Homo sapiens: one gene and its partners. The protein of the gene in region 5 purifies or fractionates together with the protein of the main gene of each other region. This does not show direct contact. Each region holds a gene or a part of one and is shown on either strand. Other genes may lie near its edges.

Region 1 (4,505 bases), on a different chromosome or scaffold from region 5:
TTTTTAACCTTAAGAGATGATTTCAGTAGTGTCAGTTATGATAGAGTGGTAAACATAAGATGCTATGAGGATACAGAGAAGGAGCAGGGGAACACTTACTGCTTTTCTGGGAGGGAGGGGAGTATGTGGCATTTGGTAAGTCCTCACAGAGAAGATGGTACCAGAGCTGAGTCTTGATGAACGGATAGGGCTGTGTAGGGTGGGGAATTAATCCTGGGGAGACAAACAACATAAGAAAAGGAAGAAAGGCATTGAACAACGAGTTGCAGGGAATTGGTCTTGGAATTACAGGATTAAAAAGTAGAGGGATGTAAGGCTAGAGAAGTAGGTCATGAATGCCCTTATGTGTCACAGAGAGGACTTTGAACTTTAGCATGTAATGTAAAGACCTTAATTTTAATCAAGGAAATGGCATGGTCTGATTTGGTGATTTAGATTAAGTGGAGTATACAATTCAAGAACATAAGAACACTTTCAAATTCTGAAACAGCATGTCAGAAAGGCCAAAAGAAGATATATAACTTTAGACAGGCTCACTTTTCAGAAAAATACCTGTTATTTCATCATGAAAATTTCATCTTGAAAAAGTAAGTCTGGGTATGGTAGTATACCATATGCATGTTTATATTCTCCCTTGTGTAGAGTTATGAAGGATTTCCTTAAAGGAAAGTGGTTCATTATGGCTAAGTGAATCCTTACTGAAGGCACTAAAACATAAGCTCAGGGAAATGGAGCCAGCACCGTGTCCTATTTATCTCCATAGTCCACATAGAACTTAGTTAGTATCTTGCACTCAATAACTCCTTAACTAATCATTGCCTGATTCCAATTGTGTTAAGCTATAGAAGATTTGGCATACACATGGTCTCCAAACTGATAGGTATACATAAAAAGTACCAGGAAGTGTTCTTATAAATGTATATTGTGTTTTTGCAAAGCCAGAGATAAGATTAATATTGATTAATTTTATTTAAAGAAGGTTTGAGTAGTTGAGTAGTTTTTAAATAAATTTCTTCATTAGGTAAGCAGAAATAGCATTTTTTGTCATGAAAATAATTTTATCTGTGTTTCTTCTTCCTCCAAGGCTGCCTCAAGTATCCAGAGAGTCTTGTCAACATTAACACTAGCAGTATTTCCAACACTTTATTTTTTTAACTTCCTTTATTATACAGAAGCAGGATCTATGTTTTTTACTCTTTTTGCGTATTTGATGTGTCTTTATGGAAATCATAAAACTTCAGCCTTCCTTGGATTTTGTGGCTTCATGTTTCGGCAAACAAATATCATCTGGGCTGTCTTCTGTGCAGGAAATGTCATTGCACAAAAGTTAACGGAGGCTTGGAAAACTGAGCTACAAAAGAAGGAAGACAGACTTCCACCTATTAAAGGACCATTTGCAGAATTCAGAAAAATTCTTCAGTTTCTTTTGGCTTATTCCATGTCCTTTAAAAACTTGAGTATGCTTTTGCTTCTGACTTGGCCCTACATCCTTCTGGGATTTCTGTTTTGTGCTTTTGTAGTAGTTAATGGTGGAATTGTTATTGGCGATCGGAGTAGTCATGAAGCCTGTCTTCATTTTCCTCAACTATTCTACTTTTTTTCATTTACTCTCTTTTTTTCCTTTCCTCATCTCCTGTCTCCTAGCAAAATTAAGACTTTTCTTTCCTTAGTTTGGAAACGTAGAATTCTGTTTTTTGTGGTTACCTTAGTCTCTGTGTTTTTAGTTTGGAAATTCACTTATGCTCATAAATACTTGCTAGCAGACAATAGACATTATACTTTCTATGTGTGGAAAAGAGTTTTTCAAAGATATGAAACTGTAAAATATTTGTTAGTTCCAGCCTATATATTTGCTGGTTGGAGTATAGCTGACTCATTGAAATCAAAGTCAATTTTTTGGAATTTAATGTTTTTCATATGCTTGTTCACTGTTATAGTTCCTCAGAAACTGCTGGAATTTCGTTACTTCATTTTACCTTATGTCATTTATAGGCTTAACATACCTCTGCCTCCCACATCCAGACTCATTTGTGAACTGAGCTGCTATGCAGTTGTTAATTTCATAACTTTTTTCATCTTTCTGAACAAGACTTTTCAGTGGCCAAATAGTCAGGACATTCAAAGGTTTATGTGGTAATATCAGTGATATTTCGAACTGTGAAAATGGACTTAATAATTAGACCATTTCTACAAAGAACAACTGAATAGGTGGAAAACATGGAATTTCTTTTAGGTGCAGTGGTGGTCTTCAAATTACATTAGTTTTTTTTATATATATTTTAAACATATGTAAGAAATTAAGTGGCAAAGAACTGAGAAAGCTTAAGACCTGCTTCAAAAGCCTGAAAAATGGAAAAATAAAATTGTTTTCAGATATCTCATATCACTCTCATAATGTTGGCCCCTTAAAAAGCTTGGGAATGTTTTGTATGTACAAGTTTATTAAAACTGGGTATGCTTCATATTACTGGAATGAATTTATTCTCTTCAGAGAGAAATATTAGGTTAGTGCAAAAGTAATTGTGGTTTTTGCCATTGAAAGTAATGGCAAAACCACAATTACTTTTTTACCAACCTAATAACAATGTATTAGCAAATATTTACAAATGGTCAGGTGATATTCTTGATTGAAAAGTTGCTTAACATTTCAGTAATATAATTTTAATTCTAAGTCAAAATACAAATGCATAGATAGTAAATGATAAAGTAGAGACTCATATATGCCTGTCTAGACATCAAATTGTTGGTTATTGTTTACAATCTAGAAATGATGAAGCTCTTTCACTAATTCCTAATATGAAATGTATGATGGCCAAAGACAAATTGTATTGATTATAATCCTTTAAAAGGGGGATTTCCTTTCTGAAATACATATTGTATTAGCTTCCCAGGGCTTCCATAACAAATGACGACAAACTTGGGTGCTTACAACAATTTTCCTCACAGTCTGGAGGCCAGAAGTCTAAAATCAAAGTGTCAGCAGAGTTGGTTCCTTCTGGAGGCTCTAAGGAAGAATCCATAAACAGACATTCTATGTCTGTTTCCTAATATCTTGTGGCTGTGTGCAATTCTTGGAGTTCTTTGGCTTCTGGACAAATCTTGTCCAAGTATTGCAGACAGCAATCTTCACTCCAGTCTCTGCCTCTGTGTTCACACGGCCTTTCCCTCTGTCTTCTCTTCATTACCTTTTAAGGACAGTGTCTTTGAATGTAGGGCCCACCCTGATCTAGGGTGATTGTGTCTGGAGACCCTTAATTATGTTTACAAAGACCCATGTTCCAAGTAAGTTTGTATTCACATGATCTGAGTAGACATTGTCTCTTCGTGGGATACTTTTCAGTCCATGACAGTTACTAAAGGACATTTTAGGATAGTCTTCATATGATTGTTAGGAGACTACCTTTTTAGATTTTTTTTATTATATATCAAATTATAGTTGTATATACTTATGAGAAACAAAGTGGCATTATGATTTTTGAATATAATGTGGGATTAAATAAAGCTAATCTATCCATCACCTCAAATATTTGACATATTTTGTGATGAAAACATTTGAAATTTACTCTCAGCAGTATTGAAATGTACAGTGCTTAATTATTAGCTGTATTCACCATGTTGTGTAATAGATCTAAAAAAAGTCAAACATGCTCCTTCTATCTAATTGAGGCTTTGTATCTTTTGATTATCATCTCCCCATTCCCACATCCCCGGCCTCTAGCAACCATCATTCTTCTCTCTACTTCTGTGAGTTTAATTGTTTTAGATTACACAAATAAGTGAGATCATGTGGTATTTGTCTTTCTGTGCTTGGCTTATTTCACTTACCATAATGTCCTCCAGGTTCATCCATATTGTTGCAAATGACACAATTTCTACCTTTTTAAAGGCCAAATAGTATTTTATTGTGTATATATGCCACATTTTCTTTATCCATGCATCCATTGATGGACATTTAGGTTGATTGAATAACTTGATAATTGTGACTTGTCTGCAGTGAACGTGGAGTGCAGACTTCTCTTTGACATACGGATTTCAAGTCTTCTGGATAAATGCCCAGAAGTGGGATTGTTGGATCAGGAGATAATATCTTAGCCGATACCTTTTAAATAACTCTCAGTATCTTTACTGAGAGGTTAAAAAGTAAGTGACTTCTGAGGTAATATAAAGCTAAAGGTGACTAGTGTTTGATTCCATTATCTATTTAAAAAAATGTCAGAATTGAAAGTTAAGAAATCATTTGGTCTGACCTTATTTTGTAGATTAGGGAACAACTGCTGGGGTAGGATTATTTTGTGTTACTTTTTGAATTTTGTGTTTATTATTTTGAGTGTATTTTTTGGGTTGTCATTCCATTATAGGAAAGTATTATTTGGGCATGTTAAATTTGACATGTAAACTTAGAATTATGAATAGAACACTTCTTTTAACATAATTTTATGTTTCCAAACTTTAAAAGTAGCTATAAGTGAACAAATTACTTTCCCCTCAATGTCAAATTTTGTTTC
Region 2 (4,698 bases), on a different chromosome or scaffold from region 5:
GATTGCACTGTGGTCTGAGAGACAGTTTGTTGTCATTTCTGTTCTTTTACATTTGCTGAGGAGTGCTTTATTTCCAAGTATGTGGTCAATTTGGGAATAAGTGCGAGGTGGTGCTGAGAAGAATGTATATTCTGTTGATTTGGGGTGGAGAGTTCTGTAGGTGTCTATTAGGTCCATTTGGTGCAGAGCTGAGTTCAAGTCCTGGATATTCTTGTTAACCTTCTGTCTTGTTGATCTGCCTAATAGTGACAGTGGGGTGTTAAAGTCTCCCATTATTATTGTGTGGGAGTCTAAGTCTCTTTGTAGGTCTCTAAGGACTTGCTTTATGAATCTGGGTGCTCCTGTATTGGGTGCATATATATTTAGGATAGTTAGCTCTTCTTGTTGAATTGATCCCTTTACCATTATGTAATGCCCTTCTTTGTCTCTTTTGATCTTTGTTGGTTTAAAGTCTATTTTATCAGAGACTAGGATTGCAATGCCTGCTTTCTTTTGCTTTCCATTTGCTTGGTATATCTTCCTCCATCCCTTTATTTTGAGCCTATGTGTGTCTTTGCACGTGAGATGGGTCTCCTGAATACAGCACATTGATGGGTCTTTACTCTTTATCCAATTTGCCAGTCTGTGTCTTTTAATTGGAGCATTTAGCCCATTTACGTTTAAGGTGTAATATTGGTATGTGTGAATTTGATCCTGTCATTATGATGTTAGCTGGTCATTTTGCCCATTAGTTGATGCAGTTTCTTCCTAGCATTGATGATCTTTACAATTTGGCATGTTTTTGCAGTGGCTGGTACTGGTTGTTCCTTCCCATGTTTAGTGCTTCCTTCAGGAGCTTATGTAAGGCAGGCCTGGTGGTGTCAAAATCTCTCAACCTTTGCTTGTCTGTAAAGGATTTTATTTCTCCTTCACTTATGAAGCTTAGTTTGGCTGGATATGAAATTCTGGCTTGAAAATTCTTTTCTTTAAGAATGTTGAATATTGGCCCCCACTCTCTTCTGGCTGTAGAGTTCCTGCCAAGAAATCTGCTGTTAGTCTGATGGGCTTCCCTTTGTGGGTAACCCAACCTTTCTCTCTGGCTGCCCTGAATATTTTTTCCTTCAGTTTAACCTTGGTGAATCTGACAATTATGTGTCTTGGGGTTCCTCTTCTCAAGGAGTATCTTTGTTTTGTTCTCTGTATTTCCTGAATTTGAATGTTGGCCTGCCTTGCTAGGTTGGGGAAGTTCTCCTGGATAATATCCTGAAGAGTGTCTTCCAACTTGGTTCCATTTTCCCCATCACTTTCAGGTACACCAATCAAACATAGATTTGGTCTTTTCACATAGTCCCATATTTCTTGGAGGCTTTGCTCATTTCTTTTTAGTCTTTTTTCTCTAACCTTGTCGTCTCGCTTTATTTCATTAATTTGATCTTCAATTACTGATACCCTTTCTTCCACTTGACCAAATCGGCTACTGAAGCTTGTGCATGCATCACATAGTTCTTGTGCCATGTCTTTTAGCTCCATCAGGTCATTTAAGGTCTTCTCTACACTGTTTATTCTAGTTAGCCATTTGTCTAATCTTTTTTCAAGGTTTTTAGCTTCCTTCCGACGGGTTCGAACATCCTCCTTTAGCTCAGAGAAGTTTGTTATTACCGACCTTCTGAAGCGTACTTCTGTCAGTTTGTCAAAGTCATTCTCCATCCAGCTTTGTTCTGTTGCTGGTGAGGAGCTGCATTCCTTTGGAAGAGAGGAGGCACTCTGGTTTTTAGAATTTTCAGCTTTTCTGCTCTGGTTTCTCCCCATCTTTATGGTTTTACCTACCTTTGGTCTTTGATGTTGGTGACCTACAGATGGGGTTTTGATGTGGATGGGGTTTTGATGTGGATGTCCTTTTTGTTGATGTTGATGCTATTCCTTTCTATTTGTTAGTTTTCCTTCTAACAGGTCCCTCAGCTGCAGGTCTGTTGGAGTTTGCTAGAGGTCCACTCCAGACGCTGTTTTCCTGGATATTACCAGCGGAGGTTGTAGAACAGCAAATATTGCTGCCTGATCCTTCCTCTGGAAGCTTCGTCCCAGAGGGGCGCCCACCTGTATGAGGTGTCTGTCGGCCCCTACTGGGAGGTGTCTCCCAGTTAGGCTACACAGGGTCAGGGATCCACTTGAGGAGGCAGTCTATCCATTCTCTGAGCTCAAACGCTGTGCTGGGAGAACCACTGCTCTCTTCAGAGCTGTCAGACAGGGATGTTTAACTCTGCAGAAGTTTCTGGTGCCTTTTGTTCAGCTATGCCCTGCTGCCAGAGGTGGAGTCAACAGAGGCAGCAGGCCTTGCTGAACTGCGGTGGGCTCCACCCAGTTGGAGCTTCCCCGGCTGCTTTGTTTTCCTACTCAAGCCTCAGCAATGGCAGACACCCCTCCCCCTGCCAGCCTGCTGCCTGGCAGGTTGATCTCAGCTGTGCTAGCAGTGAGCAAGGCTCTGTAGGCGTGGGACCCACCGAGCCAGGCGTGGGATGTAATCTGGTGTGCCGTTTGCTAAGACCATTGGAAAAGCGCAGTGTTTAGGTGGAGGTGTCCCATTTTTCCAGGTACAGTCTGTCACGGCTTCCCTTGGCTAGGAAAGGGAAATCCCCCAACCCCTTGCGCTTCCTGGGTGAGGTGATGCCCCACCCTGCTTCAGCTTGCCCTCCATGGGCTGCACCCACTGTCCAACCAGTCCCAATGAGATGAACCAGGTATCTCAGTTGGAAATGCAGAAATCACCTGCCTTCTGCGTTGATTATGCTGGGAGCTGCAGACCGGAGCTGTTCCTACTCGGCCATCTTGGAACAGACCTGCACAAAGTAAAATTTTTATATCAACTTTTGCATAGACTGTTCAGGTTCATGTTACTTTTCTTTGCCATTGTTCTGTTGTAGGTATATGCCAATCTAACATCTTGTCAAGCTCTTGGAAATATGTGTGTGATGAACATGAATTCTTACGACTTTGCCACATTTGATGCATGTGGACTATTTCAGTTTATCTTTGAAAATACTGCTGGACTGAGCACTGTTCATTCTATTTCATTTTGGTAAGGATATTTTGATTGATGAAATGTTATTTTGACTGAATTCAGTGCAGTTATTAATATATTCACAAATACTAATAATAAGAAATATTTATTCTCCATTATTAAAACAGTTGTAACTGTTTATAGGAGACAGAATCTTCCTTGGCTGTTTTATGGAGACCAGTTAGGATTAGCACCTCAAGTGCTCAGTTCTACCTCTCTTCCTACAAATTTCAGTTTTAAAGGAGAAAACCAGGTAAAAGTGTCTAATATCATTAGAGGATAACTACATTTTGATTTATAATTTTAAAAGGTAATAAAGTTACAATTCTTGCCTTTTTAGGTTGTTGGTACAAACTCAGTTACTAAACTAAATATAAATGTCAACAACTCATAAGAACTAAATAGTATAGAGTTTAGCTATCTTACTGAATATGTGGATACTTCTGGATTGTGTGGTTATGGCAAGAAGTTGTACTTGTAGGGTTGGGAAGAGCAGTTTTCATCACCAAATGCAAAAAATCTCTGTCCTGTTTTTTCCACACCTTAAAGAAGTGCTTCCAAAGATTGATTGGGGCTCTGTGACATTGCTCAGCACTTCACAGGGCCAAATTCCTACCTGTAACTTTTTGACCTTCCAGAATGAGGAGATACTATTCTCCCACACTGCCTCCTATTTAACAGGTTCAAAAGGAGGCTATCTGTCACTAGTGCTGCCTCTCAATTCTAGAATAATAATTTTCATGCAAAAAACCAGTCTAATTCTTTCAGGTCTATTTAGTCATAGAAATAGATTAATTGAACCTCAAAATAAAGATAATTGAATGTAATTTTTCAACAAAAAAGATCAGTCAACAATGAAAATTTCTTTATAGGATATTGTATTACTTTCAGAGTATTTGACCTGATTTTGCTCGTTTTCTTTAATCAGAATACAAAACTGAAGTTTGTTGCTGCTTCCTATGATATAAGAGGAAATTTTCTCAAGTGGCAAACTTTAGAAGGAGGTGTTTTACAGGTAAGCATGATTCTAGTTAAAGAATTAATAACATGCATTATTTTTGCCTGAGACAAAGCCAAGAGGAAAAGATTATTGTATGAATAAAGCATCAGTTACATACTACAGTTGATTTTTTTTCTGATGCTTTAAATTAGACTTTCTTAAGTTTTTTGTTTGTTTGTTTGTTTGTTTGTTTTTTCTTTTTTTTTTGAGATGGAGTCTCGCTTTCTTAACCAGGCTGGAGTGCAGTGGCGCGATCTCAGCTCACTACAAGCTCCGCCTTGCGGGTTCACGCCATTCTCCTGCTTCAGCTGGGAGCTGGAACTACAGGCGACTGCCACCACGTCCAGCTAATTTTTATGTACTTTTAGTAGAGACGGGATTTCACCATGTTAGCCAGGATGGTCTTGATCTCCTGACCTCGTGATCCGCCCTTCTTGGCCTCCCAAAGCGCTGGGATTGCAGGCATGAGCCACCATGCCTGGCTAAGTTTTATTTCTTTAAAGTTATGACTTTCATTTATAACAGATGTTCCCTTAACTTTTCATATCCTTGATACATTAAATAAGTATTATGTAGAGCATATATCCATGTTCGGGTTTGAGAACTCTTGAGTATAAGAATAGAAAACATTTGTGAGATTTATCTGTTGTATTATTTTGCTGCA
Region 3 (4,698 bases), on a different chromosome or scaffold from region 5:
GACAGAGTTAACATTTAAAGACTAGTTCCAACATTTACCATATTCCTGCCTGGGATTACAGATTTTTTAATGCAGTCAAGATAACAGCAGTCTTTTGTTTATCATTGTTTTTGCAAATTCAGTTAAGTAGATCCTTTGGTGTCTGTGGGTGGGTTTTTTTTTTTTTTTTTTTTTTTTTTTTTTTTTTTTTTGAGAGAGAGAGAGAGCAATTGCCAGAGAGACCATAGCTTTGCCAGGGATGAGAATTTTGCAGTGTCAAAGTCTCTACCTACTACTTGTCCCCAAAGTTCTAATTGGCTACACAATATCCCAATACTGGGTAGCTGAGAGTGAGGGAAGGAACCTGGTTTTTCTTTTGCACTCTGTGGAACTTTGTGTTTTCCATTTTGATGAATATCTTTTTTCTTTTTACTCAGTTCAGTCTTTGACAACTTTTTCAGTCATGTTTGTGTATGTGTGGGTATATATCATATAAACAGTTGCACAGGTGTGCTAGTTAAATGTGTGAAGATCTTTGTGTTTCTCTGCCTGACTGCTGTATATCTATTTATGGTTGTGCCATTGCACAAGGGTGCCCAACTCAGGGGTAAGTGGGGACTGAAAACCAGCCTGGGCTCTGGGTGCCCTTTGTCTGATTCCTACAGAAGGGCCCTATGCACTTGTAATGGCCCTGTATAACACAGCATCTAGATTGAACAATGGCCATTACTTGGGTGCTAGGTAATACATATATGACTGATAGATGTTAAGGGCTGAGGAAGAAAACAGATTTAAACTTAGTGCTGAAAAAATGGTTACAAGATAGTCTTTAAGCCAGTTATTGTTGAGATCTCTCTCTCTTCCCCTGTCCCCTACCCCTTTCTCTTTCCTTCAGTGCACACACACACACACAAAGGTGTTTCATGAAGTCCCTCATCTACCACAGTCACTGTTATTTGAGAATATCTGCTTTGAAGTTTGATTGGTCACACTTTTTCACTTTGATATTCGAATGCTGAGTCGTCTGTGATCAAGCATATGCAAGCTTCAAATACATGCCAAAAAATATCTGGAATTTGTTTAAGCCTTTTATTTTTCAAAGTTTTGGTCTATTTTCTATTACCGTACTCATGATGGATAATCCTGGTGTTAGAGTACAGCTAGTTCTGTCTCCTTGTTTCCATTACTTCTTTATAGCAAGTGACTAGCCTAAGGATATACAGGGAGGTGGTGGTGGAATGGAATCTAGGTCTCCAAATGATGGTGCGCATTTCTTGAGTACTTTCCTGTGGCTAAGCACTTTAGATGCGTTCCTATTTAAACCTTACCACGATTCTCTGATAGACTTTGTTAATATCTTTCTTTTCAGATATGGGAACTCAGGCTTACAGAGTTTAAGTAAGAAGTGGAGCCAGAATTCAACCCCAGGCTTATCTGACTCTAAGAGCTGGGATTTTTATTTTAATTATTTATTTATTTAAAATATGGAATGCTTCATGAATTTGCATGTCATCCTTGTTCAGGGGTCACGCTAATCTTCTCTGTGTCATTCCAATTTTAGTAGATTGTTGTTCAAAGTGCTGCTGAAGCAAGCACCAGGAGCTGGGTTTTAATCATTCATCATATTGCATTGACTAGATAACATTCTGCAAATACGATGTTTTTTATGTTGTTGATTAATTTAAGTGTTAGTGATTGGTTGAGTGCTCTACCATGCATTCTGGGATTAGAAAGAAGGGTCCCTGTTTCTTGGTCCTACTTTGTGGTGAATAAACAATTGCAAATTATTAATGTCTCAAACTATATTTCTGAAGTGTAGAGAGACTTCCATAGAAGAACAAGATACTTCCATATGCCGTTCAAGCAAAAGTCTGGGGTTTCCTTTGAAGAACTTTTAGATTGATCCACAGCAGGACAATGTTTCTAGGCAGAACTGAGGAGGAGCCTTTCTTAGGCTCACTTCTCTTCAGGGCTCTGTTAACTCTTCCCACGCAATGGATAATCTACCCAAAATTTCTCAGGAAAGGGCCTGAAGAAGTTCATTCACACTAAGGTGTAAGTGAGTTTACACATCTTACTGTTAATTCTCTTTATACAAATGTTTACCAAGTTATCTAACACGCTTTGTTTTGGGCTCTGTCCTGGGGACTGGAGATAATGACTGAGAGAGAAAATGTCAGCTGTTTCAAAGTAGCTTAGGATCTGTTGTGGGATACAAATTAATAACAGACCAGAAGTAATAGAATATTTCCCTGAAGGATTTTCAATATAACAGGACTCAGTTTTACTATAAAAGGCTGAAATTCTAAGGTCATTTCAACAGGTGGTGGGGTTGGGGGTGGGGAAGGCATTTGACGCCTCTTTCTCTATGGTTATAAATCTCACTTGGTGAAATTAAGACTTTGGAAAGGGGAAGTAAGCCAACTCCAAGTTGGGCAGTAGAACCAATGAAAAATGCTGACGGCATCACAGTCCCATTATGGTGCCCAGCTGCCAATGACATGGCACTCAGAGGAGTGTCTCACACATACTGCTCTGTCTGAGGGAGCAAGCTAAGCTTGAGTTGTCTCTTTTTTTGTTGTTTTTTTTTTTTTTTTTTTTTTGAGACAGATTCTCACTCTGTCGCCCAGGCTGGAGTGCAGTGGCACCATCTCGGCTCACTGCAACCACTGCCTCCCGGATGCAAGCAATTCTGCCTCAGCCTTCCGAGTAGCTGGACTACCTGCGCTTGCCACCACACCTGGCTAATTTTTGTATTTTTAGTAGAGACAGGGTTTCACCATATTGGCCAGGCTGGTCTCAAACTCCTGACCTCGTGATCCACCTGCCTCGGCTTCCCAAAGTGCTGGGATTACAGGCATAAGCCACCGCGCCTGGCCAAGTTGTCTCTTTTTAGTTGAATTTTTACCTGTTCACATGTGTATTCTTCTTGCCTAGGTAGAGAGGAATCAGACACTCTGGGGAAGAATACAAAGAAATACAATTAAGTGGAACATTGTTTTTCTTTAGAAAGTGCAATTTTGGGCTGGGCGCAGTGGCTCATGCCTGTAATCCCAGCCCTTTGGGAGGCCAAGGCAGGTGGATCACCTGAGGTCAGGAGATTGAGACCAGCCTGGCCAAGATGGTGAAACCCCGTTTCTACTAAAAATACAAAAAATTAGCTGGGCATGGTGGCGGATGCGTGTAATCCCAGCTATTCGGGAGGCTGAGGCAGGAGAATTGCTTGAACCTGGGAGGCAGAGGTTGTAGTGAGCCAAGATGGCGCCACTGTACTCCAGCATGGGCAACAAGAGTGAAACTCCGTCTCAAAAAAAAAAAAAAGAAAAGAAAAAAAGAAAAAAGAAAGAGCAACTTTGTTTTAACTCTGCTAGATACTGGAAAACCCATGGAACTAATGAAGAGCCTAGGGCTTTTTATTTGTTTTGAGATTGTGCCATTTCACTCCAGCCTGGGCAACAAGAGAGAAACTTTGTCTCACACACAAAAAAAGTGTAAATCAAAACATTAAAAATTAAGTAGTTTGGAAGTAGATTATCAAAAAGGTCCTGAAAGGGAGGTTCTTTGGCTATAATCTTTAACGCAACTCTACACTCCCTGTATGGAGACAGATTTCTTTTTAGATGGTTACAGTCACAAAGTAGGGTTTTCAGTAGCATTTAGGGATGAATGAATCTTGCAGCACCTCTCCATGTATCTTGCTAGCCCCTCTGAAACTTCAGGTCAGTTAGTGCTTCCTCAGAAATTGTTCCCCCCACACCAAGTTTTCACATTTACAGTTATACTGATATCCACATTGTACTGTTGTATGTGACACCTAGATTATAGGAAATTTTGGCTATAGTTCAGAAATTAACTGCTATGTTTTGCCTTTACGCTAAAGAGATTTTGTTTTGTTTAGTAGGAAAAGCGGCCTGCATAACTAGCCATTTCTGTATCTTAGAAAAATTTTTAGTAACAGTCCTTTGTTGAGCTAGTTACAGTGAACAAATAATCTGGTTCATGGTCCTATACATCTTTCACTATAAGAAAAATACCTGATTGTTATTTACACTGGAAGAGAGGTAGAAAAGCTAAGAGAACTCACTTATGGCAATAAACCAATCTAAACTACCTGCTAAAATAAGTGAGAAGATTATAAAAATGGTTCTAGGATTTTGGAATAATAGTGAGTATGGTATGGGCGTTTCATACTTCATTTCCAGAATGTTTCTGGATTAAGTGCGAGACTGAATAGCATATATAGTGAATTCTAATTAAATACAACAATGTGAGATTCCTGTGGTGTTTTTTCATGGAATTAAAAATTAATAATTTCAATAAAATTAACTGCTGAAAGAACCCAATTAGCCAAAATGAAAAGCATAACACATTTTTTCAGGAGCGATTTTGAGGTGTCTTTTAGAATAAATTGTACTCTGCTTTTGATGTGATTTGCTACATCTTTTTGTTGCAGTTCCTTGAGGCTCAGCCCCTGGCCATATACTTGCTTCACTTTTCCTGCTTTCTTCCATCCACTGTCTTGGGGCTGTTATTTCCAAATCTCATCACTGTGTTCAAGACTTATTTACTATTTCTGGACAGTTCCATTTGGGTACACAGGTACATCATACTAAACTAACATGAACTCATTTTTCAGCTACACCATACAACCTTCCCTTACTACCAAAAATGACAGCCCATTTGTCGGCATTCTTCTGAATCCATATTCCTCCTTCTTAA
Region 4 (4,698 bases), on a different chromosome or scaffold from region 5:
CTCTTGGGTCCATGCCATTTATATATTGGGAAATGTCTTGCAGAAGAAGGTGTAGTACAAATTGGAGGTCTTAGCTCAGTTTACTTCACAGAATATTGGCCCCTCAATTTTCATTGTCTTGATAGCTCTCTGATACGTTCATACAGATTTTTTAAAAATTAAGTTTGATTTATCTTTTCTTCTTGTTCTTAGCATGAGGATTGGTGTTATAGGTAAAAGTAGAAGTTTGCTTCCAGCCTTTAGAAAACTAGAAGTGCTTATCTTTGGGAAAATAGAAGGGGGCTGGGCGCAGTGGCTCACGCCTGTAATCCCAGCCCTTTGGGAGGCCGAGGTGGGTGGATCACGAGGTCAGGAGATCGGGACCATCCTGGCTAACATGGTGAAACCCTGTCTCTACTAAAAATACAAAAAATTAGCCGGGCTTGGTGGCATGTGCCTGTAGTCCCAGCTACTTGGGAGGCTGAGGCAGGAGAATCACTTGAACCCGGCAGGCAGACGTTGCAGTGAGCCGAGATTGTGCCACTGCACTCCAGCCTGGGAGACAGAGCGAGACTCCATCTCAAAAAAAAAAAAAAAAGAATAGAAGGGATTTTTATTCATATAACTTTATTCATTCAGATATATATATATATATCAATATGTAGATCTATATGAAATACAAATATAGCCCTCAGTATTCGTGGGGGACTGGTTTCAGAACCCCCATGGGTACCAAAATCCACATATGGTAGAAAATTATTGCAGAACCTGTGGCTATAGAAGGCCTACTGTATGTCTGTATTTTCAGAGTCAGCTGTATATCAACAATATATTTCCTTAATGATTGAGATGTCTTCACAGAGCTGAAATTTACGCATCACAGGATTGAGGTGTTTAATGTAGCAAACTGGTTTTAAAACTCTGATTTTTGTCTGGGTATCGTAGTTCGTGCCTGTAATCTCACCATGTTAGGAAGCTGAGCGGGGAGGATCGTTTGAGCCCAGGAGTTCAAGACCAGCCTGGGCAACATAGCAAGAACCTGTCTCCACAAAAAATAAATAAAAAAATTAGCCAGGCATGGTGGCATGTATCTGTAGTCCCAGCTACTTGGGTGGTTGAGATGGGAGGATCACTTGAGCCTAGGAGGTTGCAGTGAGCTGCGGCTATACCATTGTGCTCTAGCCTGGGTGACAGAGCAAGGCCCTATCTGTAGTTTTTTTAGTTTATGGAGGAAAATTAAAAGTAATTTATGTTTTTTAAAAAGAAATTATGTATAAAACAGATTATAGCATTATGGAAGGAAAATGTTAATTTGGAGAAAACTTTGTTTTATTTTGTTTTTCCTTTTAATAGAGAGGCGAAAAAAGGCTTCAGCATGGGAAAGAAATTTGGTGTATCCCGCTGTTATGGTTCTCCTTCTTATTGAGACAGTAAGAATTTATTTGCCTAGTTAAATAAAAGCAAATTATATTTTATTTACTTCAGCATTTGAGTATGGCAGCTCCCTCAGCTAAATGGTTTTTCATAAACTAGTTTTCTATCAACAGGATTAAAATCCATCTATGCCTTTATTTATGAAAATCCAATAAAGCAAAAATGGAAATTAATGGCAATTTAAAAAAAATTCTGAAGATTATCTGTTTCTTCATGAAAGCAGGAAATTCAGTCTTTGTTTTCATTGAAAATTAAGAAAACAAGGTGTTGCAGATAACCTGCTTTAAATTCTGTGATAAAATATGAAAATTACATTATGAAGTTAGTTCTGATAATATTTTACCACTTTTTTAAGTCTGTGGAGTTGTGTGTTTCCAATTGGTGAGATCACTTAGTAAAAGGATCTATATACTACCAGCTTTTGTCACAAGCTTTGAAATGACAATAACTTGCAGAATCTTTTAGAATTTCTTCAGTTCTTGTTTGTAGTCTGATTACTTTAGTTTTATATATAGCGTTTTGGTCTTGACTGCTTTCCCTCTATTCTGAAACGTGTATTTGGTTACCTAGATTTTAATATTTTGTATTGGTGAAAAATCTTGAGAGCTGACAGTTTGCTGTTTGTCTTGTAGTCCATCTCGGTCCTCTTGGTGGCTTGTAATATTCTTTGCCTATTGGTTGATGAAACAGCAATGCCAAAAGGAACAAGGGTAAAGTAAAATCCTTTAAAATGTCTTTCTTTTGCAAAAGTATTCTATGTCTATACCCTGAGTATTTCAAGTAAGCAAATGAAAACATTCACCTTTGTGCATGTATATACTTCAAGTTGTATGAATTTCTTTATGCAAAGAGCCTTTAAAATATAAACTGTGATTTTTGTTTCTAATTTTTTACTTTGGATTGACAGGGCCTTTTTTCAAGTGTTGGAATTTCCTTTTAGATTTCTTATCAGAGTTTATCTTGATTTTACTGAAATTCATTTAGCTATATGAAATTCCTTTAGCCATAGTCTTGATTCAGATCCCCCCACCTGAGTCTTTCCAGGACCTTGTGCCATCTGTTATTGCCATTGTTGTATTCACTTACAGCCTCTTCTCCATGAGTACAAGCCCACCATCATGCTCCAGGTGCCTCATCCTACAGACAGACAAGAAACTACCCTTTGCCATGTACAGTCTTATCTTTTTCTTTAGTTTTATACCCAAACCCACTGATAGAACAGGAAGTCGCTTACTATACTGACTTCCTAGTCACTTTTAACCCATTTTACTATACCAACAAAACAAGTCCCAAGCCCTATAGTATATTTTTGTACCCATCCCCCTTAGTGCTTAGTGGAGAATGACTTGTACGTCATAGGAGATCCCTGTATAATTGTGTAAAAAAATTAGATACTCTTAATCCTTCCTACATGGCTTCTCTTGAGATAGCATAATTCCAAAGTATTATCTCTGTTGATCAATAAGCTTCTGTAGGGGAGAAGAAGTAATACCTTTTTCTAACCTATTGGAAGGTTCATGGCTGAGATGCCTATAACAAAAGATTAATAAGAGAAAAGCTGACAAACTTATTTAAGATAAGTTTTACATATCACAGGGGTCTTCAGAAATAAAGAAGACCAAAGAAACAGAAAAAGCTGTGTACTTTTATGCTCTGGTTTGTTGAAGAGTGGACAGTAGTGGGAAGTATGATTGGAAGACAGGGGTGTGATCTAATGATTATAAACCGGGGGGATTTAGCAAGGCCTGTTCATATTCTTCTCGGTGTCCTCGTGTCTCCGGAGATAAACATGTGCTTCTCCTCTGGGTGGGTTGCGGGGGGCACCCTTGGATGGGGGTCTTATGGCCTGCTTCGCAGGAGAAGGAGACAGATCAGTGTGTGACCTTCCTAGGTTTTCTCAAATACCAGGTCCCAAATTTTGGAGTAGTGTGTCTTGAACCCCATCACTTTCTACCAGCATCATTTATTTCTTCTTCAAAAGATTGTCAAAAAGTTATTTTTTATTGGGCTGACTGTAGATTCTTAATTATCCCTGGTGTTTCTATTAGATGTAATCTGTGCTGACTAGTAAAACATTCAGATAGTTTCTTTTATTAGTAATCTTTGAAAATACTTCAGTAGGGAATGATTTTTTCAGATCTAATTATAAAAATAGTAACTTTTTTGTGTTTTTTTTTTAAGTTCTAGGTAAAGATAGTTTTTGAGATAGGGATAATTGTTTAGGAAAAAATTTATAGCATTACTTTTTTAAAAATCTATGTTAACAGTTACATCCTTTGTAACTCTGAATTCCCAAGGAAAATTTGGGCAAAGGAAACTTTCAGGTATGGGAACAGGATATGCACATTTACTCTCTTTCTACTCTTAGCTTAATTTTGACATACTTGAATTGTGTAATCTTTGTATATTGTGTAAGCATTCAGATAGCTATGTATCCTATTCTTATTTTTCTATTGTGTTTTTAAAAACTCTTTCCCAAAACTATTCAGGATTTTTTTCCTCAAGTGGCAAGTTGCCCCATTTTATAACAGTAAGCATAATCATGTCATCTTGACAAGTAACTTAAATTACATTTGAGATAAGTAATTTTTCTTGAGCTTATTAAAATTGTTAACATGGTGCCTGAATTTGTTGATGAAATCAGTCTAATGTCATGTCTTGTTGGCCTTTGAAAGTCTAGATGTTATTTCAAAGTAGTAAACATTCATAATTTCAACTGTCTTATTTTATGAAACAGCTGTTTTAGGGAAACCAATATAATGGTGTCATCAAATTCTGAAAAGTGTCTTTCTCCCACCCCAGGGGCCTGGAATAGGAAATGCCTCTCTTTCTACGTTTGGTTTTGTGGGAGCTGCGCTTGAAATCATTTTGATTTTGTATCCTTTCTTTAACTGAACGTTCAGCCTATCCACAAATTTTATACCAAGTTTTCTGGGGCAGTAGTTATTTACTAAGACACTTGTCTAGAAGAGAAAACAACAGGTTAGTCTTCCTCAAGCACTTAAAGCGGCTTTTTGTTTTGCTTTTCCTATGGGCCTTAAGACTTTTTGGAGACTGCCGAGAACTTAGGAAACTTGCATTCTGTTGGAGAGTTTTTTTCCTTGATTCTCACAGCTATCTTATGGTGTCCTCTGTTGTCGGCTTCTATAGCCTTCGATTTTTTGGAAACTTTACTCCCAAGAAAGATGACACAACTATGACAAAGGTAAGGTAGAATCTTAGGTGACTGTGGCCTCTCGTTTGCCTTCCCTGACAGACTGCTTTATTTAATAGTCATTCTGAATG
Region 5 (4,698 bases):
AAATAAACAACATCAACAAGGCTTTATGCAAACTAAGAAAAAAATAGAGAAAACAAAAATAAATCAAATTGAAGATAAAAAAGAGATATTACAACTGACATCACAGAAATCCAATGGATCATTAGAGACTATTATGAGCAACTTTATGCCAATAAATTGAAAACCCTAGAAGAGGTGGATAAATTTTTTTGACACATAGAATATTGATTGAACCAAGTTGACACATTAAGAAATACAAACCATGAACAGAGCAATAACCAGCAGCAAGACACCAGCAGTAATAAAAAGTCCTCCATCAAAGAACAATCTAGAACCTGATAGCTTCAGAACAACTGAATTCTACCAAACATTTAAAGAACTCATACCTATTGTACACAAACTATTTGAGAAAATAAAGGAGGTGGGAATACTTCCAAACTCATTTCACAAGGCCAGCATTACCCTGATGCCAAAACCAGAAACGAACACACACAAAAAAGAAAACATCACTGATGAACATAGATGTAAAAATTCTCAACAAAATAGTAGCAAACAAAATTTTAAAACACATTAAAGAGATCATTCATCACGACCAAGTGTGATTCATCCCAAGGATGCAAGAATGGTTCTGCATAGGCAAGTCAATAAACATAAAACATAACATTAGTAGGATCAAGGACAAAAATATATAATCATTTCAACAGACGCCAAAAGCATATGATAAAATTCGAATTCTCTCTTTATGATAAAAGCTCTCAACAAACTGAGCATAAAAGGAAAATACCTCAAAACAATAAGATCATATGTAACAAACCCACAGCTAACACCATAGAGAATGGGGAAAAAAATGAAAGCTCTTCTTCTAAGATCATGTAGAAGACAAGTATGCCCACTTTCACCACTTTTACTCAATACAGTAGTGGACGTCCTACCCAGAGCAACTAGGCAAGAGAAAAAAATAAAAGGAATCCATATTGGAAAGGAAGAAATCAAAATGTCCTCATTTGCATATGATATAATTTTATATTTACAAAAACCCAAAGACCCTCTCAAAAATCTATCTGAATAAACAAAAAATTCAGTAAAGTCGCAGGATACAAAATCAACATAAAACATAATTACCATAACTATATTTCAATAAACAGCAATCTGAAAAGGAAATTAAGAAAGCAATCTCATTTGCAATTCGTTACAAAAAGTAAAATACCTAGTAATAAACTACACCAAAGAACTGAAAGATTTCTACAATGAAAACAATAAGCTGATACAAAAAATAGAAAGACATCCCATGTGCATGGATTAGAAGAACCAATATTGTTAAAATGTCCCTATTACCCAAGGCAATCTACAGATTCAATGCAATCTCTATCAAAATACCAATGACATTCTTCACAGAATTTTTTTTAGTCCTAAAAGTTACACAAAATCAAAAAAGACCCATAAAGCGAAAGAAATCCTAAGCAAAAAGAACAAAGCTGGAGTGGCTGAGCTAATTTGCATTCCCACCCGCAGTCTACTAGTGTTCCCTTTTCTCCACAACCTCACCAGCATGTTGATTTTTGACTTTTTAATAACAGCCATTCTGACTGGTGTAAGATGCTATCTCATTATTGCTTTCATTTGTATTTCTCAAATGATTAGTGATGTTATAAGTTTTTTTATATGCTTGTTGGCCATGTGTATGTCTTCTCTGGAGAACTGTCAGTTCATGTCCTTTGCCCATTTTTAATGGGTTTGTTTGTTTGTTTGTTTTATTGTTGCTTTATTTGAGTCCCACATAGAGTCCAAACATTAGACCTTTGTCAAATGCATAACCTGCAAATATTTTTTCCCATTCTATAGGTTGTCTGTTTACTCTGGTGTTAGCTTCCTTTGCTGTTCAGAAGCTCCTTGGTTTAATTAGTTCCTGCTTTTCAATTTTTGGTTTTGTTGCAATTGCTTTTTGGAGTCTTTATCATAAAATCTTTGCCAGGGCTGATGTTCAGCGTGGTATTTCCTCTTTTCTTCTGTGTTTTTAACACTTTTACATCTTACATTCAAGCCTTTCATCCATCTTGGGTTGAATTTTGTATATGGTCAAAGGAAGGGGTCTAGTTTCAAAATTTTGCATATTGCTAGCCAGTTATCCAAGCACTATCTATTGAATAGGGAGTCTTTCCCCATTGCTTGCTTTTGTCAGCTTTGTCAAAGATCAGGCAGTTGTAGATATGTGGCTTTATTTCTGGGTTATCTAATGACTGTGTTGCATTGGTCTATGTATCTGCTCTTATGCCAGTATCATGCTGTTTTCATTACTGTAGCCTTGTTGTGTAGTTTGAAATCAGGTAGTGTGATGCCTCTCACTCTGTTCCTTTTGTTTAGGATTGATTTGGCTATTTGAGCTCCACTGTGACATTTACCCATGTAACAAACCTACATGTGTACCCCTAACCTAAAATGAAAGTTGAAAAAAAAAAAGGTTTTTAACTAAATGTAAAATTATGTTTTAAAAGATCACATAATTAGTAAATGGTACAATCAGAACTTGAACACTAATCTGACATTAAATCTTGCACTTCTAGCCATTATACCATATTACTTTCCTTTTACACTATACTGTCTTCACTCAATATGTAATTATTTTGGAAATTAAGGACACTAAAATTCCCATAAACACTAACATTTTTAGAATATTTGTATGTTTGCTCACCTTTCACCATTTTTTGAAGTTCACACATATACATGCTCATCAACTTTTGCTTCAGCTTCCCTGAAGGAAGATCTAAGGAGAAGAAAAACACTTTCCAAAATATATCAATACAAAAGATTGTTATAAAAAGTCAATGACATATAATTGACAATTGGATAAATGGACAGATTCTAAGAATTTCAGACTATTAAGTGAAATTAATATAGTCAGAAGACTAAAAACCAAATATATAAAAGTAAAAAAGAATTCCATATTAATCCATTTTCTGATTAAATTATCAAAGAAAAGAGAGAATTTTGAAAGCAGCAAGATAAAGTGACTGACTTGTTACATACTAAGAGAATGTCCTCCATAAGACGATTGGGGGATGGCAGATTTCTGCAGAAACCTTGTAGGCCAACAGAGAGTGGGATGATATGTTCAGAGAGATGAAAAAATAAAAGGCTAACAAAAATTACTGTATCTTGCATACCATCCCTCAATAATGAAAAGAAATACTTTCCCACACAAACAAAAGTTGAGTGAGTCTGTCAGCACCCCACCTCCATTATTATTATTTCCAAAGGGAAACCTTGAACTTTAAAAAATGGCACTAAAGAGCAGCATGAGAGCATATGAACATATAAAGCTCACTGATAAATGACTAATGTGAAAAGTCCAGTATTAATATTATACTCAACAATAAAAAACTGAAAACTCTTCCTTTAAGATCAAGAACAAGATAAGGATTCTACTCTCACCACTTCTATTCAATATAGTCCTTGAAATTCTAACAAGAGCAATTAGGGAAGAAAAAGAGATAAAAAGGTAAGAAAAGGAGATAAAATATGAAGTGTTTTATGGAGGATTAAACACGTAAAAAATGAAATAGCATCCTATACCTATTAGGATTATCATTATCAAAAATAAATAAATAAATCAATCAATCAATCAATAAATAAACAAGAAATAATAAGTGTTCAAAGGATATGGAGAAATTGGAACCCTTGTATATTGTTGGTGGCCATATAAAATGCTACACTCACCATGAAGACACTATGGAGGTTAGAACTACCATATGATTCTGTATTTTCAGTTATGGGATCTCAATTCTTCAGAAAAGAATTGAAATCAGTATTTGGAAGAGATATTTGCACTCCCATATGTTCATTGCAGCATTATTCACAATTGCCAAGATATGGAAGCAACTTAACTATTCATTTACATATGAATGAATAAGCAAAATATGTTATATACCTATAATGGAATATTAGCCTCAAAAAAGAAAGAAAAAGGTCATACCCAACATGTATGAACCTTGGGCTAGCACAGAAGAACAAACACTGTCTGATTTCACTTATATGAGATATCTAAAAAAAAGTCAACTCATAGAAGCAGAAAGTAGGATAGTGGTTTTCAGGGACAGCGGACAGAGGGGAATAGGGAGTTGTCATTTAAGGGCATAAAGTATCAGTTATGCAAGATGCAAATGTCTTGGAAATCTGCTGTACAACATTATGCTTACAGTAAATACTGTACTGTATCTAAAAATTTGTTAAGTAGGTAAATCTCTCAGCTTAAGGAGATTTTGGGCTGAGACGATGGGGTTTTCTAGGTAAATCTCATCTTATGTATTTTTATCACAATATTTTAAAAATGAATAAGTGTTTTGAGAGCCCCCAACTAAATTTGGATTTCAGTACCAGAGTGGTTAAAAACCCTGCCCTAAAAAGAAAATGAATGGGAGCTGGATGTAGGGGTTTACAGTGTTCACGCAATACTTTTCCTTCAGTGGATGGCCTGATGCCTAGTTGTTTGACCCTTGACCAGGGGAACCTTCACACAGGAAGCTTGTTTATACTGGCAGATGCCCTTGGGGCTCTTATCCGACCCATGTACAGTTTATGTCTGCCTGACCATTGCTCTGGCACTGGTTGCCTAACATTGTGTTCTCACTGCAGTCCTAGGGAAAACCCAGCCTGAAACAGCCCCTAGTTTTTCAGACAGAAAGCGTAAATTCAGTACACCACCACAAGAAGAAGCAAATTCAA
Region 6 (4,698 bases), on a different chromosome or scaffold from region 5:
ATAAATTTCCATAGTGAAGTTAGGTATATAGAAAGTACCAAGTTTCTTTAACTAGAGTTTTCTAGTGTAAAGGGATCTTGCATTTTATTTTATTAACGTTCTGTTTTCATGTGGGTGGTACGTGTCTTTGTTTGCATGTGTGTCAGGAATATGCCACCAAAACAAGAATTGGGATCCGGCGTGGGAGAACTGGCCAAGAACTCAAAGAGGCAGCATTGGAACCATCGATGGAAAAAATATTTAAAAGTAGGTGGCTATCTTTAGTTTTTAACCTAGAATCTATGGATATGTTTTAAGAGGTCCATGAACAACTTCCTAAAAATATATGTGTATTTGTGCATTTTCTGGGAAGACCACATTATTATTCTGAGATCTGACGACCCAGAAAAGATTGGTACTTTGCACTGGATTCAGTGGTTATCAATCATATTTCTTCCAGTGGAAATTTTACTTTCCTTTTTTTTAAAGAAAAGGATTATTAATATGCCATGGTCCAAAAGGTATACTCTGTTGAGAAAGTTCATTTTAAGTGTGTAGAATCCTCATTCAAGCATATAATATTTGTGTATGTTTCAGATTAAGAATAAATCACCAACACATAGATGTTAATAAAAGCCTAGCTGTCCAAGAAGAATCCTTTAACTCACTGCTCACATAGGGCCTCAGGAGGGCAGTACTTTAATATATTGCCAGTTTGGTTCAGTTTGGATATCAACTTTGCAAGTTCAGAAACTAGATTGTTAATCATCCTAAAGCTATTCAAAGAATACCACTGCTCCTTAATAATCTTGCAAAATGTCTTTACAGTGGGAGAGAGCCCTAATCAGTATCCTTCAGGTCATTTCTTTCTGATTTGACCCTAGAGACCAAATCATGCAAATTATGTAGTGACAGCCTAGTAATATTCTTAGTAAACGAATTAGACTAAAAGAATAAGATGCCCTTTATGAATACCTCTATTGAGTTAGAGTTGATTAGTTGCCTCTCAGTACCCTAAAACGGGAGCCTCCTCTCACTTGATTCTGCTGCATAAACACTGATTATATTTTCTCTTTTTTCTTGATTTCCACGTAAAGCATCATTTGTGTTAATACCATGCAGTATGGTATGACTGTTAACATTTCCTTCTCATTTTTTACTTTCCATGAATGTCATGTGAATATACTTCAACCTCTTATTAGTAAAATAATAGGTATCACAGAAGTAGCTCCACGTCTACAGGTATACTGCTCCCTCAAATATTGTTGGAGGGAGGTTGAAGATTCACCAAGCCTGATCCTTTCTTTTTTGTACTGATTTTTACACCTTTGTTTCAGGAGTGTTTTTTTCTACTGGTTACCTAACATTGAGGCAATTTCTGTACCCCATATGCACTGATTATGGCTTCTATTAAATATGGTACATGATTTGATTCCCTTGATAAATATTTTAAAGGCTTTGTCCAGATGTGCCAGTACTAACCTGCATTTCCTTCTGTGTTCTGCAGTTGATCAGATGGGAAGATGGTTTGTTGCTGGAGGGGCTGCTGTTGGTCTTGGAGCATTGTGCTACTATGGCTTGGGACTGTCTAATGAGATTGGAGCTATTGAAAAGGCTGTGTAAGTAAATTGTTTTAAGTAAACTGTTCCTAAACAACTCCAGCCTTAAAACAAAAATTCAAATTTTCTTCTCATTCCTATCTTTAGTCACTTTGGAATGTTTTGTGTCTAGTCTTTGTGTATACACACAAATAGAGAATCTCTTTTTGCTTCTTTGACATTTATTTATTCAAATCTAAATAAAAATCTTTTAGCAAGGTTATATGTGTTTAAGCAAAGAGAAAATATGAAATATGTTTTTTGTTTGTTTGTTTGTTTGTTTTTTTGGAGAGAGAGTCTTGCTCTATCTCCCAGGCTGGGGTGCAGTGGCGCGATCTTGGCTCACTGCAACCTCCGCCTCCTGGGTTCAGGCAATTCTCCTGCCTCAGGCTCCTGTAGGTGGGATTACAGGCACATGCCACCATGCCCGGCTATTTTTTGTATTTTTAGTAGAGACGGGGTTTCACCATTTTGGCCAGGCTGGTCTCGATCTCCTGACCTCAGGTGATCCACCCACCTCAGCCTCCCAAAGTGCTGGGATTACAGGCATGAGCCACCGCACCCAGCCAAAAATATGTTGTTTTTTATATGTGCTTGTATGTTTTATCTCATTTAGTCCTTACAGTAACTCCCAAGTATGCATAATTATCATAATTATTTCCATGATAAATGAAGTGAATAAGATTTAAAGTGTAAAATGATTTATCCCGAGGTCGCCCAGCTAGTGTGTGACTCAACCAGAAATCAAATCTGTAATTTCATAGATTAATCATGTCATGTTTCTTACAGAATTTGGCCTCAGTATGTCAAGGATAGAATTCATTCCACCTATATGTACTTAGCAGGGAGTATTGGTTTAACAGCTTTGTCTGCCATAGCAATCAGCAGAACGCCTGTTCTCATGAACTTCATGATGAGAGGCTCTTGGGTGGTAAGTCAGCTGTTTTTGTTTTCCTTTTTCATCTAAAGATCAAAAGATTAGATAAAATATATTGGAGGGAAGGGTTATTAAATGGAAAGAATACTGTATTGAACAAGTTTTTGTTCAAATAATGTATGAATTACAGGTTGAGCATCCCTAATTTAAAATCCAGAAATGCTCCAAAATCCAAAACATTTGTAGTGTCAACATGATGCTCAAAGAAAATTGTAGCATTTCACATGTTGGGTTTTTGAATTAGGGATCCTGAACCCTAACAACAATGAAGTGTAATGATAAATAGTCCGAAATCTGAAGTCTGAAACACTTCTGGTCCCAGACATTTCTGATGAGAGTTACTCAACCTGTATTAGTGCAGCTGAGATAAAAGTAGGAAGTTCATTCTAGGTAGGTCAGCTATTATTCTTTATTAAACATGTATTCGAATAATACCAGAGGAGTTAGAAATCAAACTTACAGAGACAACATTTTTGTCTAGCAGCAGATATCAGACAGCCTCTAATTTGTAGCAGTTTACTAAAAAAATAAAGCAAATGCAAAATCATCTTAGAAGTCAGAGGGAAATGCCTATGCAGTTAAGAGCAGAATAGTGCTGCTACTATTATTCCTAAGATTCTTGACCTTATAGAAGATTTTATATTTAATCGGTTTCTCTGGAGCCCTTGTTATTTTGCTAGATAAGAGAATTTGAATATGTGTCCCCTATTCTCCTGCTATTTGGTAGAAGAGATGAACTGGAATAAGTGGCACAGATACGCAATAAGAAAGTGCAAAGTCAGTTGAGAGTTTCTGTCTTGGACTGTTAGGCAAGTTCCGTGAAGGAGACATTTATTTCATCAGGGTTGTTGAAGGCTAACATGTCTCATTTATTTTAGAAGTAGACAAGAGGGCCAGGTGCAGTGGCTCACACCTGTAATCTCAGCGTTTTAGGAGGCTGAGGCAGGAAGATTGCTTGAGCCCAGGAATTTGAGACCAACCTGAGCAACATAGTGAGACACTGTCTGTAATTTTTAAAGAAATAGAAAATTTTAAAAATTAAAAAAAAATTTTTTTAAGTAGACAAGGGCGGTCCAATTTTACCAAACAGTTTAAGGGAAGAGGAGGTAGGAAAACCTAATTTCAGAGGTGACTTACAATCCCATTAGAGGGAAATTCAAGTGTTTGAGGTCTGGAGGGTAAAGAAGACGTGGTTAGAAAGGATACAGTTGTCAAGCTGAGGAGAGAACCTAAGCAGTCGGAGGCCATTGGAGATACTGGAACAACAAAAGCGTGATTTATATTTGAGTTTTTAGAACCAATGTGGAAGAGACATGGAGCAGGTGTACCAGCTGTGCCTTTGTAAGATCTGAAATGAGGGATGATAAGAACCTGAACTAGAGCAGAGTGTGATACTGGAGGGGAAGGAGAGTTCATGTAACACTGATTCCCCACATAGGGACGAAAACCATATTATTTTCACTGTGTTGTACTTTACTAAAGGATAACCATTTACAGTAGCAGCCATTTGGATATTTATATATTCTTAGGATCATGCTTTTTCACATAGACGTCATGAATCTCCCAGCCCAGAGGTTCACAAAGGCACAGAATGTTTCACTGGGGATGTCAGTTTTAATCAGAAGCAAATAATTTAAAACAATACTTTTGTAATAAACATGACAATATTTACCTAAAATTTTAGGCCCTAAAATGAGGCTTCAAAGAAGTTTTGTGTTTGGGCCATATCCTCAGTCCCTTCTGGGCAAAAGATTACCCTCTTCCACTGTTAGTAATACAGAAAATAGGAAAGCCAAAGACAAGTGTTACAGAGATGAAGATGTAACCTTTTGGGTGTGACAGACATATATATACAAACACACACATAGACACACAGATAATGTCAAAGTTTGTCCCAAGTGCATCTGAGGAGAGGTATCTGATCTTGCTCTTGGGCAGCCAGGGTACCTACTAGAAAAAGCTTTTGAGATGAGACAGTACCAGAGTAAGTCGACCAGATATGGAAGGAGATATTCTTAGGCATGATGGATTGAATTAAGGAGGCCTGAAATTTTGGGGCATGTTGGCAGCTGTGCCAGTTCCGTATGGTTGGAATGCAGAGTTTGGAGTGAGACTGGATCATAGAAGATCTTAAAAAAATTTAATTGCTGCTGTCCACAGAGGATGTGTGAAATAGTTTGTAGT
Region 7 (3,455 bases), on a different chromosome or scaffold from region 5:
CCTGCGCAGAGCCTCCTCCCAAGGCGCAGGAATCCGGCGCCAGTCAGCAGGAAGGGTGCGGTGGCCGTGCCACTGGCTGTGTCCCCAAAGTGAGCACCGCTCCCACTTCCCACTCCAGGCCCCCAAAGGACAGCCCCAGCTCCGCACCCCAGGCGCGGCCCCCGTGCTCCATGTGCAAGCATGGCACCACCCCGGGCCCAGCTCCGCCTGTGGCCCTTCTCTGCCTGGTCCTCCATGCACAATCACGCTGCTCCCCCGCCGGCAGGCAACTCAACCTGGCCACATTGCGGCGGCCCCCCGGGAGACAGGCTCCAGGGGTATCCCTGCAGCAGGCTCCAGGGACTCTCCGCCCTCCTGGCAACAGCAAGCAACAGTGGTGGTAACGCGGACCAGGGTCCAGAGCAGTGGTGGCTCCAGGCCTGGAGGCAGGCCCCACTCGGCCACACAGGGGTGGGGGCGGCGCAGTCGGCTGCCACAGGGACACGGGGCACAGGGAACGTGGGGCACAGGGGTCTCACCATCACCACGGCTGCTCCTGCAGCCACCACTCACACCTCCCTGCTACGGCCGGCACAATGGCAGCAGCCACTCCAGACGGCCCACTGCTGCCATCACTAGGTACCAATGTGTTTCCATCACTATTTCCCTCATGCTGACACCTTCCTGTGGAGGTGTCATTTTCTAATAAGCAATATTTTCCCACATCAGCTGGGATTCATAACATTTTGAAAAACAAATTACAATTTGAAGGTGGGGGACACCTTTTTATGGACATTACACTTTACTAAATATTTCCCTGGGTTTCTCTATAACTAAAAATAAAAACTATAAGGAGATACAAAATTTCTTAAGTGATCATAACTGGAAAGCAAAATTGCAGAAGCTACTGATTTTCTTGCTTACTCTAATTTTTCTATGATGATCATGCATTGCTTTGTGTATTAATTTGTCTTCACACTGCTGTAAAGAACTACCTGAGACTGGGTAACATATAAAGAAAAGAGGTTTGACTCACAGTTCCGCATGGCTGGGGAGGCCTCACAAAACTTCATCATGGCAGAAGGTGAAGGGAAAGCAAAGCACATCTTAACACGGTGGCAGGAAAGTGAGCGAGCAAGGGGGTAAATGCCAAACACTTTTAAACCATCAGACCTCGTGCAAACTCATGAAAACAGCATGGGGGAAACCATCCCCCATGATCCAACCACCTCCCACCAGGTACCTCCCTCAACACGTAGGGATTACAATTTGAGATGAGATTTGGGTGGGTGGGGACACAGAGCCAAACCGTCTATCATTTTGCATGATTTTTAGCATTCTAAGATCAAAAAGAAAAACATCACTTTCAAAGTACATGAATGATACCAATAATAGAAAAGAATATGACATTTTATTTTCACTTATGGACATACAGTACATGAATTTAGAAATAAAATCGTCGCAGGATTCTGAAATACTGATACCTTAAGATCTAACACACTGATATTAGTCCATTCCCTACAAAGCAGCCACATTAGCAGTTCAGATTTGGTCTTTGTTGTAGCTGTTGACATTAAGTTCTTTAAGTGAAATGCCCAGCAGCATTTAAATAATATTTTACAGCAGACATGAACTAAGTTTCAATATTCCATCTTTGGAACAAATTATGCTTATTTACATGTTAACAGGTGGCTATATTTACTTACCCTATTGTGAGTTTAATGACTGATTTTAAACTACAGAGGGTTTTCCAGCTATTATTTCCTTTAGTTTCTAAAAGTAACGACTTATATTAATGTTTTATAAAAGATAGTGATGAAAAAAAGGTAATGCTGAAATAAAGGCGCTTTTAGAAATATTTAAGGACAACATAAGGTATTAATATTGGAAAAAAACTGTACATATTTTCAAGCACAACACTGAAATATTGCAGCAGTGTTTAACTGAATTATTTAAAATAGTGGTAATTATACTACCTTACATACCGTTCTAATATTTAAATCTCTTAATTACAATTTGAATATACAATCTGACTTACAATTAGAACTATGCACAGTTTCCGAAGCATATTTTTCAGGTTTGTTTTTGCACAAAAATTAACGTTTAAGTTGGTCCTTGATTTGGAGTACTATAACTACCTGGAAGCACTAAGTTTTAGACACATTCATTGATAGCCAACAAAATCCTTGACAGAGTGAAAAACATCAAGAGTACCATGCGTGAAAAAGCAGCTGTTACCCTCCAAGTGCAATATGAAATCTAGAACAAGACCCTCTCAGAGGCCTGCGTGTCTCAATGAGTGACCCTCAAAGAAACCAAAATGTATAGGAGGAAGTAGCTGACCAGTCATGGGCATCTTCCACATTGGGATAATCTTTAAAACAGAGGCAGCTTTGGACCTCTAGCGTAAGAGATAGACTTTACATTCTTTGATTTTATTTACACTTTTTTAAAAAGATAAAGTATATCTGAATTCTCTCATCACACCTAAACTGCTGGTGCACTGGCAGTTCAAGCTGATTAAAGTCATGAGGCAGCCCACCAGAGACTTTAAAGAACCCCAGACCTCATCCTCCTCTTTCCTATCATGAAGTCACAGACTGTCTCATCAAACTACTTGATGTCTGTAAGAGACTTACATTTTATAAACACAGTTAGCTTATTACTGAACTTTTAAGAAAAGTCCAAAGATGTGTGGAAAAGTATGCCTGCTAATAGTGACCGCTTCTACAATGACAATAATGAAACTGAGCTACAAAAATAATTTTGCTGTTTTAAATAATGAAAGGAGCTAGGTTTTTAAAATATATTACTTATTCTGCAACAGCTAATTAAATTGACAATCAATAGAATACAATGAACAGATTCAGCTTCCATTCTGCAAGCTGAATTCAGGTTATATTTTAATTACAGAATAGCTTCAAATTATAAATCTAACTGTCCCAATAGTAAAGAGACCATCAAGGCAGTAACATCAGATCAATTCTGTCATCATCCTGCATGGAGCACAAGATGTGCTTTTGGATAAAGGCATTAAAAAGACCTTGGGCTGATGTGGAAAGCGGGTCAGTAAAGACTCCAGTTCTGCACAATGGAATCTTCCAAGCCAAGCCGCTTTCCACAAATACAAATTCAGTCTATCTTTTCTTTCTGGACCAGTCTGGGAGCATCGACAAAATCTTTGCCATTGTAAAGAATGATAAAAAATGTTCCAATGCTTGCAACTCCCCAGAAGAGCACATAGGCCAGTGTTTCTGTCCAAGTGTCACCTGTTGATATTAAGAAACAAAAAGCTAAATAAGTCGTTTGTTGATATCAGACCCAGTTTTCAGCTGTTTAGCACATTTTGGCAACATTAAAGTTTACTAGCACATTCACAGGAAAAATATAAGAACCTCTTAATTAAGGTTTAAACCAGTGGTTCTCAAACCCTGGCTAGTACCAGAATCTTCTGCAGGGCTTGATAAAGCATCAAC

What was found.
Region 1: the proteins of SLC22A9 (region 5) and ALG10 purify together in Homo sapiens (affinity purification with mass spectrometry; 3 studies listed by BioGRID and IntAct, with this or other methods). This does not show direct contact.
Region 2: the proteins of SLC22A9 (region 5) and TMEM67 purify together in Homo sapiens (affinity purification with mass spectrometry; 3 studies listed by BioGRID and IntAct, with this or other methods). This does not show direct contact.
Region 3: the proteins of SLC22A9 (region 5) and SLC16A10 purify together in Homo sapiens (affinity purification with mass spectrometry; 2 studies listed by BioGRID and IntAct, with this or other methods). This does not show direct contact.
Region 4: the proteins of SLC22A9 (region 5) and LMBR1 purify together in Homo sapiens (affinity purification with mass spectrometry; 3 studies listed by BioGRID and IntAct, with this or other methods). This does not show direct contact.
Region 6: the proteins of SLC22A9 (region 5) and GHITM purify together in Homo sapiens (affinity purification with mass spectrometry; 3 studies listed by BioGRID and IntAct, with this or other methods). This does not show direct contact.
Region 7: the proteins of SLC22A9 (region 5) and SACM1L purify together in Homo sapiens (affinity purification with mass spectrometry; 3 studies listed by BioGRID and IntAct, with this or other methods). This does not show direct contact.

The regions. Positions count from the first base shown.
Region 1 is NC_000012.12:34,024,779-34,029,283, forward strand, and holds the end of ALG10 (dol-P-Glc:Glc(2)Man(9)GlcNAc(2)-PP-Dol alpha-1,2-glucosyltransferase), read left to right. Parts: intron 1-1,084; coding exon 1,085-2,137; 3' UTR 2,138-3,524; downstream 3,525-4,505. UniProt on the Homo sapiens protein: Dol-P-Glc:Glc(2)Man(9)GlcNAc(2)-PP-Dol alpha-1,2-glucosyltransferase that operates in the biosynthetic pathway of dolichol-linked oligosaccharides, the glycan precursors employed in protein asparagine (N)-glycosylation.
Region 2 is NC_000008.11:93,777,696-93,782,393, forward strand, and holds part of TMEM67 (meckelin isoform 1 precursor), read left to right. Parts: intron 1-2,897; coding exon 2,898-3,052; intron 3,053-3,178; coding exon 3,179-3,287; intron 3,288-3,962; coding exon 3,963-4,049; intron 4,050-4,698. UniProt on the Homo sapiens protein: Required for ciliary structure and function. Part of the tectonic-like complex which is required for tissue-specific ciliogenesis and may regulate ciliary membrane composition.
Region 3 is NC_000006.12:111,089,756-111,094,453, forward strand, and holds part of SLC16A10 (monocarboxylate transporter 10), read left to right. Parts: intron 1-4,698. UniProt on the Homo sapiens protein: Sodium- and proton-independent thyroid hormones and aromatic acids transporter.
Region 4 is NC_000007.14:156,725,355-156,730,052, reverse strand, and holds part of LMBR1 (limb region 1 protein homolog), read left to right. Parts: intron 1-1,332; coding exon 1,333-1,409; intron 1,410-2,045; coding exon 2,046-2,123; intron 2,124-4,215; coding exon 4,216-4,289; intron 4,290-4,527; coding exon 4,528-4,618; intron 4,619-4,698. UniProt on the Homo sapiens protein: Putative membrane receptor.
Region 5 is NC_000011.10:63,400,238-63,404,935, forward strand, and holds part of SLC22A9 (organic anion transporter 7), read left to right. Parts: intron 1-4,698. UniProt on the Homo sapiens protein: Sodium-independent organic anion transporter, exhibits high specificity for sulfated conjugates of xenobiotics and steroid hormones such as estrone 3-sulfate (E1S) and dehydroepiandrosterone sulfate (DHEAS).
Region 6 is NC_000010.11:84,142,509-84,147,206, forward strand, and holds part of GHITM (growth hormone-inducible transmembrane protein), read left to right. Parts: intron 1-146; coding exon 147-246; intron 247-1,486; coding exon 1,487-1,598; intron 1,599-2,366; coding exon 2,367-2,508; intron 2,509-4,698. UniProt on the Homo sapiens protein: Plays an important role in maintenance of mitochondrial morphology and in mediating either calcium or potassium/proton antiport. Mediates proton-dependent calcium efflux from mitochondrion.
Region 7 is NC_000003.12:45,743,326-45,746,780, reverse strand, and holds the end of SACM1L (phosphatidylinositol-3-phosphatase SAC1), read right to left. Parts: intron 3,249-3,455; coding exon 3,112-3,248; coding exon of another isoform or gene 3,046-3,111; 3' UTR 1,372-3,045; downstream 1-1,371.